Linked DNA regions of Homo sapiens: all the other regions are reported to be linked to region 3. Evidence: microRNA targets listed by miRTarBase, many of them from high-throughput screens and not tested one by one. Region 3 holds a microRNA gene; each other region holds the end of a gene's coding sequence.

The links. Region 3 holds the annotated microRNA hsa-miR-4650-3p (AGGUAGAAUGAGGCCUGACAU, at 768-788, shown strand). A microRNA usually pairs through its seed, bases 2 to 8, with sites in the 3' UTR of a target mRNA and lowers its output. Matches are read on the target gene's strand: a 7mer-m8 pairs with bases 2 to 8, a 7mer-A1 pairs with bases 2 to 7 and ends in A, and an 8mer does both.
Region 1: the mRNA of MFSD8 is a reported target of hsa-miR-4650-3p. Seed matches in the 3' UTR shown: 7mer-m8 at 1,480-1,486.
Region 2: the mRNA of CSRP2 is a reported target of hsa-miR-4650-3p. Seed matches in the 3' UTR shown: 8mer at 2,454-2,461.
Region 4: miRTarBase lists HAND1 as a target of hsa-miR-4650-3p. Seed matches in the 3' UTR shown: 7mer-m8 at 2,204-2,210.

What each region holds. Positions count from the first base shown.
Region 1 is chr4:127,918,031-127,921,220 of GRCh38, forward strand. MFSD8 (major facilitator superfamily domain containing 8) reads right to left here. Exons shown (of 12, transcript NM_001371596.2): 12 at 1-2,806. The coding sequence ends at 2,600. Among named protein-coding and RNA genes, the nearest start is that of PLK4, 39 kb to the left of the region's middle.
Region 2 is chr12:76,856,404-76,859,593 of GRCh38, forward strand. CSRP2 (cysteine and glycine rich protein 2) reads right to left here. Exons shown (of 6, transcript NM_001321.3): 5 at 3,144-3,190; 6 at 2,306-2,625. The coding sequence ends at 2,549. Among named protein-coding and RNA genes, the nearest start is that of CSRP2, 21 kb to the right of the region's middle.
Region 3 is chr7:67,112,120-67,115,119 of GRCh38, reverse strand. MIR4650-1 (microRNA 4650-1) reads left to right here and starts at 723; the gene lies at 723-798. The region is part of intron 12 of TYW1 (tRNA-yW synthesizing protein 1 homolog); the gene reads right to left. All of the region lies in intron 1 of LOC124901664 (a long non-coding RNA gene), which reads left to right.
Region 4 is chr5:154,472,855-154,476,024 of GRCh38, forward strand. HAND1 (heart and neural crest derivatives expressed 1) reads right to left here. Exons shown (of 2, transcript NM_004821.3): 2 at 2,118-3,056. The coding sequence ends at 2,952. Among named protein-coding and RNA genes, the nearest start is that of HAND1, 3.8 kb to the right of the region's middle. RefSeq lists enhancers at 1-550, 551-1,522 and a silencer at 2,851-3,038.

The DNA of each region.
Region 1 (3,190 bases), not on the chromosome of region 3:
AGTTTATTTTTAAATGTAAAGCTGAACAAGATAGAATGGAGATGCTTTGTGAAGTTATAAATCCCTTCAAAATATGAAAATCATCCTTTCAAGTTTAAATTTGTTTTCAAAAACATATTTTCTCTTCTTAAATATGTACTACTCTTAACAATATATCATACCTTAAAATCTCCTGTTGTCATTTTCTCTTTATACGCAACTTGGCCTACTCAAGAAGACATCAACATGGTGATTTTTTTTCCTCAAACTTTATCTCCTTGCTCTTTTCCCAATCCCATGTTACTTCCTTTCGCCTTCTTTTGTGCCAAGATGAGCAAGGTATAATCCTCCAAAGAAGAAAATGCTCCAAAGAAAATGCTCTCAATAAAAAGGAAAGTAAGAGTCATTTGTGTAAGGTTAAGTTTATCTAAATTTTAATCAATATTATAAACCTTTGAAAGCTGGGAAACTTTTTTCTGTTATATTCTTGCTGGAAACAGGTTATTATGCTAAGACAAAAGCTCCAGTCAGTGGGCTTATGTTGCCCAAATATTTCTGCTAGTAGGACTCACTGGTATAGTTAAATTACCCTACAATTAGTGATTAATTGAAACTGCAACTTTCTGGGATATTTTCCTCACTATGAAAAATCAAGTGGTTAAGACTGTGGACTTTAAGGATAGACTGTTACTTAGACAAGTAACTTTTCTGTGCCTCCATTCTTTCATCTGTAAAACGGGAATCATAATAGTATTTTCACTCCATAAGACTGCTGTAAGAATTAAATTGTATGTTACACATTACCTGGAATGTGGAAAGCACTCCACAAATTTTGCTCTTATCATTTTCATCATTACCATTATTCTTGTTATTTTTGTCATGCACACTATGCAAACCAAGGGTAGAGTTTACTCTTTAAGATTAGACGTGGCCCAAAAAATGTAAGACAGAGAAAGCAGCTGCAGAATAGCAGGTAAGAGGGATCCCAGACTTGACCAAATAGCCAGAACTGGCTACGGTTCTGAGAAATCTATGGAAGCAGTCTTGCTATGGGCGGCAGAGGAGAGTGAAAACAGTCTTCAAAATTTAATCGTAGAATAATTCTATCAAATTAAGCCCTTTATTAGAGCTGAAAAAATTGAGTTTAAGAGCACAGCTAGTTTAGCATAAAGTGCAGATTATACAGTTTTAAATTTTTGTTTTTATTTTTTGTAAAGACAGGGTCTCACTTTGTTTCCCAGGCTGGTCTTGAATTCCTGGCCTCAAGCAATCCTCCTGCCTTGGCCTTCCAAAGTGCTGGGATTACAGGCATGAGACACTGCACCCAACCTATAAAGTGCAGATTATATAGTGTTTATTCTCAGATTTGAAACTATTTCTAACTTAAAGTAGAAAACATTTGGAAAAGTGTTTAGAAATATTTTTGCATTTTCTTAACAGTGCTTATCAATATACATAGTTATCTACTAGTTCCTTTTATCAGCATTCAACTTATGTAGAGGTAGAAGTTAAACATACAGTGTTATTTAGCCAACTTCAGGTAAACTCAGTAAATTGTTAGATTAAAGCCATTTTGCCTCAAATACTTATTAGCCTGACTAGTTTGGGGCTGTCAGGGATCATCCAAATTAAAAATCCAACTAAAATTCTGCAGCTCTACACAACTATGCAGACATAGATTGAAAACTGTTGTGTTCCTCCCCGCCACTACTGAGAGATGGGAAAAATTAAAGTAAATTAATTAATGTTTTACTAATTAAATGTTTTTCTCCAGTTTAAGGGGGTTGAAAAATAGCAATAATTTTAAGAAACCATTTACTGTTTTGTATATATATATATAAAATAACACATATCTGGATTATGTTTCTAATGTGAATTTTTGGCATTTGAAAGAAAGTAGGTATCCCTATTAGGCTAATAGGCAGTGAAGTATCTTGATCTCTTAATCCTCTGTATTGCTCAAATATTAGCATTATCCATACTCATTTATTAATGTAGGGGTTACTTAGTGAAACCCTGAACTAAAATAAGGCAGAGGTGTAGTATTAGAAGAAAGACTCATAGAAGGCAAGGTAGGATGTTAGGCACGCTAAATGGAAAATATGTGTTATAATTTTTATTTCATAAGTGAACTTGATAATAGAAAATGCATTTTTTTATAAATAAAAAGTAGGTGTCTGAATAAAAATACCTCTACTTGGGTAGAGGTATTTAAAATTCTATAATTTTGTTCTGCTATGGCTAATTCTTACAGAACCCTCTTTCTGGTTCCACTGTATATTATTTTAATGACACTTCTGCAGTGGGTATTAAGAATACAGCTTCACATTTATTCATCATTGTCCATTCACTCATTAGTTCATGCAACCACAAAAAGGTATTATAAGAATAATATTTCATTTCTGAGGTAAGGAAATTATCATCTAGTATGTTTTTATATAACCTACTATTCACAATGACATGTAGAATTCTCTCTGTTATTCAACATATGTTCTTGTTCTTCAAAATCTGCAATATCTGTAGTCTGATTCTTGGAGACTGGCTCACCGCAATTGTCTAGCAGAGCTTTAGACCAGGAAGTGCCACACAGCAAGTAGTTTCCATCACAGTCTTAGCTAGTTTATTCCTGAATCCTCCCATATCTTACAGAAAGAGCAATGAGTCTTTTGTAAACCACTCCCAGGAGGGTGATGGTGAGCACTATTATTCCACACACCAGGCTGAATGCCCATCGTGGTCCCCAGTGAGCATACACTTGGCTGATGAACATAGGCCCAAGAATCCGGGCTCCACTTCCAGATGCTGTTAACCAGCCCATGTATACACCCTGTTGGGGGTGAAATGGAGGACAAGCAGATTGATATTGGGGTTTAGTTATTTAAAAGCAAAGAAATGGTATTACCAAACTACAGCAAACTTACAAGAATCATTTCTGCATCTTTTACTTTTAAATTAAACATAAAATGCCTCCTATAAATATAGCATTTAATATTAAGTCAGATTAAAAAAAATAAAAGGAGTGTAAAGGGAAAAACTTACTGTCTGCTGAAGCCCTGGGAATAATAAAATTGATTAAAATACCTTTTAAAGCTAACATTTATTTTGTACCTGCTACATGCCAGTCACTGAGGTAGGTGCTTTAAATACATCATTTGTAATGTTCACAAGTTTCGATGACAGGTGTTATGCCTGTTTAACAAAGGTAGAAGCT
Region 2 (3,190 bases), not on the chromosome of region 3:
ACTGACTTACATCCAAATGACCAAGTGATTCCTCCCAAGTCTGGCCCAAAGCCAATTTCCTTTTTCTACTCCTGGAACCTCTGGAAACTAATCTCACAGTGTTGGAGTAGCTATTTTGCCATGGCTCTCAATCAAGAATGATTTAAAGTATGAATGGATATCTTGTTTTATTTTACCAGACAGAAATCTCAAATTACCAGTCACCTGGAAACTTCATTTACATTGTTTTTCCTCTTGAATATCTACTAGCAACTCCAGTAGAGTTTGGGAAACATGGTAGGAATGCTAACAAACTACCCCAAACTTTGGTGGTCTAAAACATTTTTGTTCGTAGATCTGCAATTTGGTCAGGGCGTAACAGGAATAGCTCACTTTGCTCCACCTGGGATCAGCTGGGATGGCTCAAAGACCAGAGACTAGAATAATCTGAAGGCTGCCTCACTCACATGCCTGATGGTTGATACTGGCTGTTGAATGAGCTCTCAGCTGAGGCCTTAGCTATAATGCCTACATGTGGTTTCCTCATGTAGTCAGGGCTTCCTCAGAACATGGTGGCTGAATTCCAAGAGTAAGCATCCTAAGAGGAAGAGGTGGGCAAAAGCTGTATTGTCTTTTCTAACCTAGCCTTATCCAAAATAATAAATACTAAGAATGAGTCACTAAGGTGGGCCTTTATTCAAAGAGAGGGGAATTAGACTATCATTTGATGGGAAGGTCAAAGAATTTGTGGACATGTTCTACCACATACAGAATCAGAAGTTATTCCATAACTTCTCTCCTTCAGCCTCTTTGATTGCCAATTATTTCCTAGACTGCTTAACTACCTCTCCTGCCCCACCATGATGGAACTGGTATGCCTCATAAAACACCTGAAGTTGCTCAAGGCTATGATGTGAAATAAGCACCCAGTACACCCTCCACCAACTTCCTCCCACTTTGTTTCTGCTTATTTATTTTTTTTGATGTCGTACATACCATATCCCCTTTAGCTTTTTCAAAATAAGCAATATATTGGCCAGGCGTGGTAGTGCATGCCTGTAATCCCAGCACTTTGGGAGGCCGAGGTGGTTGAGTCACTTGAGGCCAAGAGTTCAAGACCAGCCTGGACAACATGGTGAAACCCCATCTCTACTAAAAAAAATAAAATAAAAAATTAGCTGGGTGCAGTAGCATGCCTGTAGTTCCTGCTGCTCAGGAGACTGAAGCACAAGAATCGCAGGAACCCAGGAAGTGGAGGTTGCAGTGAGCTGAGATCGCACCATTGCACTCCAACCTGGGCAAGAGAGCGAGACTCACACAGTATAGTATGTTAAAATGAACCTTGGAAAAGATTAAGATATGTTCACGGGCTGGTTCAATTTTACTAATAATACACATTACAGACCTATTACACCCTGCTCCTGGGGGTGAGGGAGTTGGATTGAATCTCTAGTAAAGAACTAAACTTTCTGGGGGAATAATGAAACCATACCTTATAAAGTCTAATGCTCCTCTTCTACCTAAGCCAGCTGAATGTGCCCAGACAATGCAACATTCTTTGCTACTTATACAGAATCAAAATGTGTGAAACACCCCAGTTTCCAGGACTTAGTAGGTCACCATCTATTAGATCACAGTGTAGAGTCTTTAAAAAGAATCATACTAAGTCTCTGATTCTATAATTGCCCATAGGTGTTTGTTTGTACTGAATTTTAGGTATAATCAAAAGAACTTACTTAAGAGTACGGTGGGGAGGGAAAGGAGGAGATGCTGCACTGCTGAACACCAGCTTTGAGGAGCTGAAATAATGATGCCTGTTGCCTAGCAACCTTTTTTTTTTTTTTTTTTTTTTTTTTTTGAGACGGAGTCTCGCTCTGTTGCCCAGGCTGGAGTGCAATGGCACGATCTCGGCTCACTGCAAGCTCCACCTCCCGGGTTCACGCCATTCTCCTGCCTCAGCCTCCCGAGTAGCTGGGACTACAGACGCCCGCCACTACGCCTGGCTAATTTTTTTGTAGTTTTAGTAGAGACGGTGTTTCACCGTGTTAGCCAGGATGGTCTCGATCTCCTGACCTCGTGATCTGCCCATCTCGGCCTCCCAAAGTGCTGGGATTACAGGCGTAAGCTACCGCGCCCGGCCTGCAACCTTTACTCTTAAGGCACACTTGCCTGCTTGAAAGAGAGATCCTTTTCAACAGCTGTAATGCAAACATGAACCTAGTGAGTCAGCTGGGTAATGGGGTAACAAAGGTAGGGAACCAAATGACTTTCCACTAACTGAAATCAGAGCATCTCCTCCAAAAGATTAATTAAAAGACAATGAACACCCAAATCAAGCTGAAGTTTTATTTAAAATGTAAAAGAAATGTTCCCCCAAAATGCTGGTGAATAAAGCAAAAGGATACCATACAGTGCTCTCTTCCTACGAGTTAGCCAGCCTATCCAAGTACAGGGCGATATACAGTACTTAATGCTGGTAGAATTTCACAGTAGTTTAGTGTTAAAGATTATCTGTGCCTAGATTATGAAGAGATTCTCAGTGTGTGATGTTTAGTTCAGGGTTTACATCTTACTGGGCATGAACAAGAGCCCCTGCTCCTTGGCCATAGCCAAATCCCTTGGGCCCAAAGTTCTTTGCATAGCATCCTACAAAGGAAAGGGAGGAAGGATAGTTAGTGCAAGTCCATTAAGCTTTGCTAGCACTGCTTAAGACCCACTCAACAAACCCCCATAAATTAAACTGCTGTGTAAAAGAGCTCAACTTATTTAAGATGTTAAATGTGTCATGTACTAAATATCTTAAAGCTGCAAAGACAAGTCCACACATTCTGGCCCTATAGTGTTCAGCGTGGTCCTGCTGAGTTGCAAGCATGAGTCAGGCCAGGTAAGGTATGTATTTGTCTGTTTTCTTCCATATACTTACGCTTTGCTCAAGACATGAAGGCAAAAGATGGCTATTTGTGGTGTTTTTATCTGGTGGGGAGTTTTAAATGATCAGGAACTTAACTGTGGTTCTCTGTCATCTATAAGCATCTTGGGATATTTTATTTTCAGAAAATAGTGGCATACTTTTCTTTTTTTTTTTTTAATGCCAGTGACATTTCATTAAACAAGAACCAGTGTGGAATATTCATATGGACAGCAGTAACTGAAATGAATTTTACCTTTACAATAGATTTCACCTTCTTTTTCAGTCAGAGTTGTTGATTCA
Region 3 (3,000 bases):
AAGATTATGAACAGCACATTCCAAAGGCCATACTCCTTTTACAAACCTCTATCATTTACAAAATAGGAAGCCCTGGACACTGACACTACCAATAAGGAATTCTAGCCAATACTAGATGTCTGAGATGCTACACTCAAGGAAGTCCAATAAGGAATTCTAGTCAATACCAGATGTCTGAGATGCTGCACTCAAGGAAGTCTACAGATCTCTTGTCAAGGAGCAGAGGAAGAATGGAGAAGAGGAAAAGGTCCCCAGGAATTACAGAGCTCATTTCTAAGGGGCTCAAAATTAGCAAAGAGACTTTTGGAGATATTTTCTGAGCTTTAGGGATCTTATTTCTGCCTCACACTGGTCTCTATTCACCCAGAAGAGATAATGAGGCTCCCAGTAGAGTCAGTTATCTGTCTCTATTCTATACAGAGATAACAAATGTTCCCAAAAAGCAAAAGAGTCTTACATCATCAAAATCATCATAATAATTCCTGTATCTGAGAATCTCAACAGCACTGCTGGGAGTAATTAAAAAGGATATCCTCTGCTCTCCCAAAAACAGACAATATTTAAGATAGACAACCTTAAGCCCAATCCTCTGTACAAATGCCCCAGGATTCTTGATCTGAGTACTGTAAGGACCCTTCATCTTAATTTTAAATCTCTGAGTGAAGAATTATCATATATAAAAATGTGCTGATGAACATAAAAATCCCTCTCCCATGTTGCCTTTCTGTAGAGATTATCAGGCCTCTTTCTACCTTCCAAGGCTCAGAAGGTAGAATGAGGCCTGACATATCTGCAGGAAAAAAAAGGAGAGAGATTTATGTTTGTAAGAAATTCAAGTAAACAGTGACTTTGAAGCTCCTCCTTGGGATAAAAAAAATAAGCAGAGTGACCCAAACAAGCAATGATATTAAAACCTAAATCTCTAAGACAATCTGAGGCTGTCAGATCAAGCCAAATAGCTCAGGAGGAAGAGGGGAGGAGGGTGAAAGAGAAGGAGAGAATTATTTACCACTCAGCGAGCTGGCACACTCTGCTGTGTGCTTTACCCTTCTTGATCAGTTCACTGAATCCTCACAATAAAACGACCACGCAGTTGCTACTTATGCCCATTTTAGAGACGATGAAGCTGAGGTTCAAAAGGTTAAGTAACGTGTGCAAGGATCTATAAAGAATAAGCATCATGCCGGGCACAGTGGCTCATGCCTGTAATCCCAACACTTTGGGAGGCTGAGACAGGAGGATCACCTGAGGACAGGAGTTTGAGACCAGCCTGGCCAACATGGTGAAACCCCATCTCTACTAAAAAATACAAAAATTAGCCAGGCATGGTGGCGCACGCCTGTAATCCCAGCTACTCAGGAGGCTGAGGCACAAAAATCACTTAAACCCAGGAGGCGGAGGCTGCATGAGCCAAGATTGCGCCACTGTACTCCAGCCTGGGCAACAGAGCAAGACTCCACATCAAAAAAAAAAAGAAAGAAAAAGAAAAAGAAAGAAAGAAAGAAAAGAAAAACAGTAAGCGTCAAGGAGATTCAAGTCCAGAGATGACTCCAGAGCCTTTCTCCTAACTCTGCACCATGATGGCAAAATCCACAGTGTGGCTCAGTGTTCAAGTCACAGCGGTTACATGTAACAAACGGTATTCCATAAATGAAAAATCCAAGAGAATACGGATGATCTGTGAAATGCAGATTCTGACTGCAAAGTCCTAAGAGAAGCCAAAACAACAAGTCCTCAGGAAGAAATTCTGAACTTAATTCTTTTCAGGGGCTTATGCACTTCATTCAACATTTATTCAGGGATTACTATGAACTGCACACTGAGGCCAAGAGGCTCAGCCCTTAATATTTACATTCTGGAGGGAACAGAAGATGGATGAGAGTCCCACCACGCAGCGCCATGACTAAGGTGGGGAAAATGTAATGGGTATAAATGGAGGAGTGAGTTGATTTTGCTTGGCAAAATCATACAAAAGACGTAACAAGGTCAAAGTCAAAGCTGATCTCTGAAGGACACAGAGTTCATCAGGAAGAGAATGAGATCATTTCCACGGATGTCCAAAGAAGAAATGCAAAGGCCTGCAGCTGTGAGATGCAGCAGGATAAAGGAATCACAAACTATCCCCCATGGTTCTAACATGGCAAATGGAATTCGGGGATGCCTGCAGCCAGGTCTCATGTCCTGCCAGGGTTAGGTTTGGCTTACTGAAGTTTTATGTAGCCAGTGACACAGTCAGATCAGTGCTGATGAAAGTCACGTGGCTCCAGTGTGATGGATGGATTAAAAAGCCAGCACAGCGCACCGTTCTGCATCTGGCTCCCCTGTGCCTCCCACTTATCACCAATCCAACAACCTCTTAACCACAATTTAAAAATCCAAAAAGCTCTAATAACAAAAAGGTTGCTTTTCTAAGTTGGGAGACATACTTACCTCGAAGTAGAATCTGACTTACAAAGCTGTTTGTATTCTTAATTTTTCTTTTGTTTTCTTTTTTTTTTTTTTAAAGACAAGAGTCTTGCTCTGTCACCCAGGCTGGAGTGCAGGGGCATGATCTTGGCTCACCACAACCTCCACCTCCCGGGTTCAAGCAACTCTCCTACCTCAGCCTCCCAAGTAGCTGGTTCTACAGGCACGCACCACCACACCTGCCTAATTTTTGTATTTTTAGTGGAGATGGGGTTTTGCCATGTTGGCCAGGCTGGTCTTAAATTCCTGGCCTCAGGTGATCTGCCTGCCTCGGCCTCCGAAAGTACTGGGATTACAGGCATGAGCCACTGTGCCTGGCCTAATTTTTCCATTTCTGTGACTAAGCATACTTTATTGTAGAACTAATTACATGTGTGTGGCTCTAGGGTGCTGGAGATATACCATAAAATACAGTGGATAAACTGTATTGTCTTTCTAAAATTCTGAAACACTTTTGGGCACAAGGGGTAAAAGATTGTGAACTTGTAGAAATCATTCCATATCAATACATAAAGAGCTTTTGCACTTTCTTTT
Region 4 (3,170 bases), not on the chromosome of region 3:
CTCTGTGCTCGGCTTTTCCAGCTGTGCGGTGGGAGCTGGGGATGTGGCGTGGGCGTGGGAGGCCGCTGGAGTCAGGCGTGGGGAGAGTGGGGGACTATCCAGTGACCCTCTCAATGGGCGCCGGCTCCGTCTCGGCTCCCGGGTTCAGGGACTGCACGTTTCTGAGACCGAGTTTAGGGCTCCAAGGCTCTCTTCCCAAAGAGGGTTTGGGGCCAGCAGGATTGGGTTTTCTGAAGAGGCCTGGTTATGCCAGACTTGGCTTTGGCGGCCGCTGGCGGGTCTCCCTCAGCACCCCCTCTTCTTTCCCCGGCTATAAGAAAGCTAGACCAGGGTGCGCATTCTTCCCGTGCCTAGGATACTTCACGGTGCTAAAAATAGTCCTGGGAGCTGGGACCTGTGTATAGCCAGAGGTTTGTGTGTGAGCGAAGTTGGAGTCCTGGGTTCGAATCTAGATAAGCTTCCCTCCGTGCTGTGGGGCTTAGATCACCTCCCTCCCTGAGTCTGTTTCTCCATGCGCGCCGGAATTTCTAAACGGACTCCCAGAAAGAAACGGAAAGAAAGAAGGTAAAGAAAAGAAAAACAAAACAACAAGAAAGAAACTTTGATTTTTCTCTCTGCTCCTCCCCAAGGGCCCTGGGGCCTCGGGCCGGGTACTGAGGCCGAGGAAGGGGTGCGTCGGACAGGCTCATTACCGCCAAGTGTTGCCCTAGTTAAATCGCGGGCCTGTTTGATCTGGCGGCGGGTGGCGAGAGGGAAAAAAGAAAAAAGTAGGGGGGCGAGAGTAGAGAGAGAAGCTCACACCTCCCCCACTGTTTCCTAGCGCCCATAAAACACCTTTTATTAACTCCTTCGCGTCCGGAAAGGCCCGCGTGGCCTCTCGGCCCCTGCTACGGTGTTTACAGCCAAGACTAATGGGGTCCCATATTCACCCCGACGCTGGGACAAGGCGCCTGGGGCACGCCTGGTGCCCCACGAGGCCCTGCCCCGGAGCTGCCTGAGGTCTCCTTTCTTGTTCCCAAGCCGAGCGCTCAGGCTCCAGGTGCGCAGAGCGAAAGTTCCAAGACAGCCTCACGGGTCTCCCCTCCTCCTTCGCAGTGAGCGCCGCAGACCCTCAGGCGCTGCAGAGCGTGCGCTCCGTGGGGCAACCATGGGAGCTGTTGGGAGACACAGAAGTGCTTAGCGCAGTGCCTAGCACACAGTTGCACGCAACCAAAGTATTCGTACATTATTATTCCTGGAAGTATAAACCACTGCGTTTGCCCGCCCCAGTTTAGCCCAATACGCATCCAAGATCCTTGGCAAATGCACCGAATTTATACCCACCACACCTAGTCATGGGTGCGCATGAGAGAACACAAAGACTGGCTCTCCTGCACAAGTGCCCGAATGAGCACGCATACACACATACACCCCATCCCTTTGCACAAATCCATATGCTCTCACAACCTTCTGTCGAGTGCTTCGTTGCTAAAGAGAAACCTAAATACCTCAATTTAACATATAAGCACTCACAAGCTTATTTTACTCAGGTATAAAATAATAATAGCTGCTGTGACTTGTCAAGTCCTTACTGTGTGCTTGGAGCTGTACTAAGCAGACCCTTGTTGGCCCCTGCACAGCCTCAGGCTCCGTATGAGTTGCTGCACTGTCACATGTACATCTATATGTTGAGAATTTCACATACATGAACATATTCCCCACCAACACCCCCTCTCCTGAGCTACCCTGCCCCAGGGATAGGATTCACCTGTGTGCTAGGCCCCCTTCCCTCCCAATAAACACTCCAAACCACTCTTTGCAGACACCAGTGGGCATACTAACCTCCAGACAAGCACGAATACTCAACGCACAAAAACCCGAGCCCAGGCCCTCTGAGACTAATTCGTTTCCGTTTTTGTTCTTCCCCGTTCCCATAAGTTACCCCCACCTCCCGTTCTAGTCTAAAGAGAACTTTGCTCTTGTTCTTGAAATACATTCTTTATCTGCCGGCTTCCCTTGATTTCAAGTTTGGTTTCGTGTTTATCAAAAGAAGAGGAGCAGGAACAGAGGCTTTCCACCTAGCAGAAGCCATGGGAGTCGGTGAGGGACCCCGGTTGAGACATGACACAGGCTTCAGATGATTTCAGAAAATGTTTTATTAATCAAGAGCATAGACACTGCTTTGGCGAAGGGAGGGGGGCTGTGAGTGGTCACACAGACTTGAGGTAGAAAAGGGTTGGGGATGGCAGGATGAACAAACACCTGAGCACAACAGGCATGGTAGGTAGTTTAAATACATAAAAACTTTCCAACACAGGGAAAGCTTTTATTTAGATAGAAACAAAAAGGAAGGAAAAGAAGGAAGAAAAGAGAGAGACAGAGAAAGAGAGAAAGTGTTTCCCTTGGAACTAAACAGGAAGTGCAGCGACAAAAAGAAAAATAAAATAAAACCACCACGATTCGAAGAACAAAGGGCAGCCTTTCATCTTCCTGCGTCTGGTTCTCTTTCTCAGGCAGAAAAGAATTGATTCCTTATTGCATTTTAATTAGAGAAGACGGCGTCGGGGCGGATCATATGGAGGGACAAGAGAGAAAGAGCCAGATAGGGAAATGGAGATAGGGCTGAGGTTCTAAATTCGCTCCAAAAGGGTGGAAGAGTGCGTCTTTGAGCCCTTGGGTTCGACAGTCCCTCCTTCTTGCATGTTGCCGCCAAGGGCCGCCCTCGGTTGGGCTGGGGGTGGATATATATATATTTCTCTTTCTCTTAATGTATTAAAAAAAATCAAAGGACATTGCACGTGCGATCCAAGTGTGTGGTTGCAGCCGACGACCTGCCGGCGCTCAGCAGAAGCTCCGCGGGATGCGTAGCACCAGTCGCCGGAGCCCAGAGCCTGGCGTTCGCCGCTGCCTTCCTCTCCTCCCGGGGCTTCAGGAGTGGCTGGCCTGGCCAGGTCCTCGGCGCGGGCCTCGGCTCACTGGTTTAACTCCAGCGCCCAGACTTGCTGCGGCCAGCCGGTGCGTCCTTTAATCCTCTTCTCGACTGGGCCCAGGGCAGGAGGAAAACCTTCGTGCTGCTGCTGCCAAAGGACACACAGAAGAAAAGAGGCGGGAGAGACAGGTTTTAATTTTTCTGCTCCGATCGCCCGGCATGGGGTAAGATGAGGAGGAGGGGAAGGTGTCGGGAGCAGTAA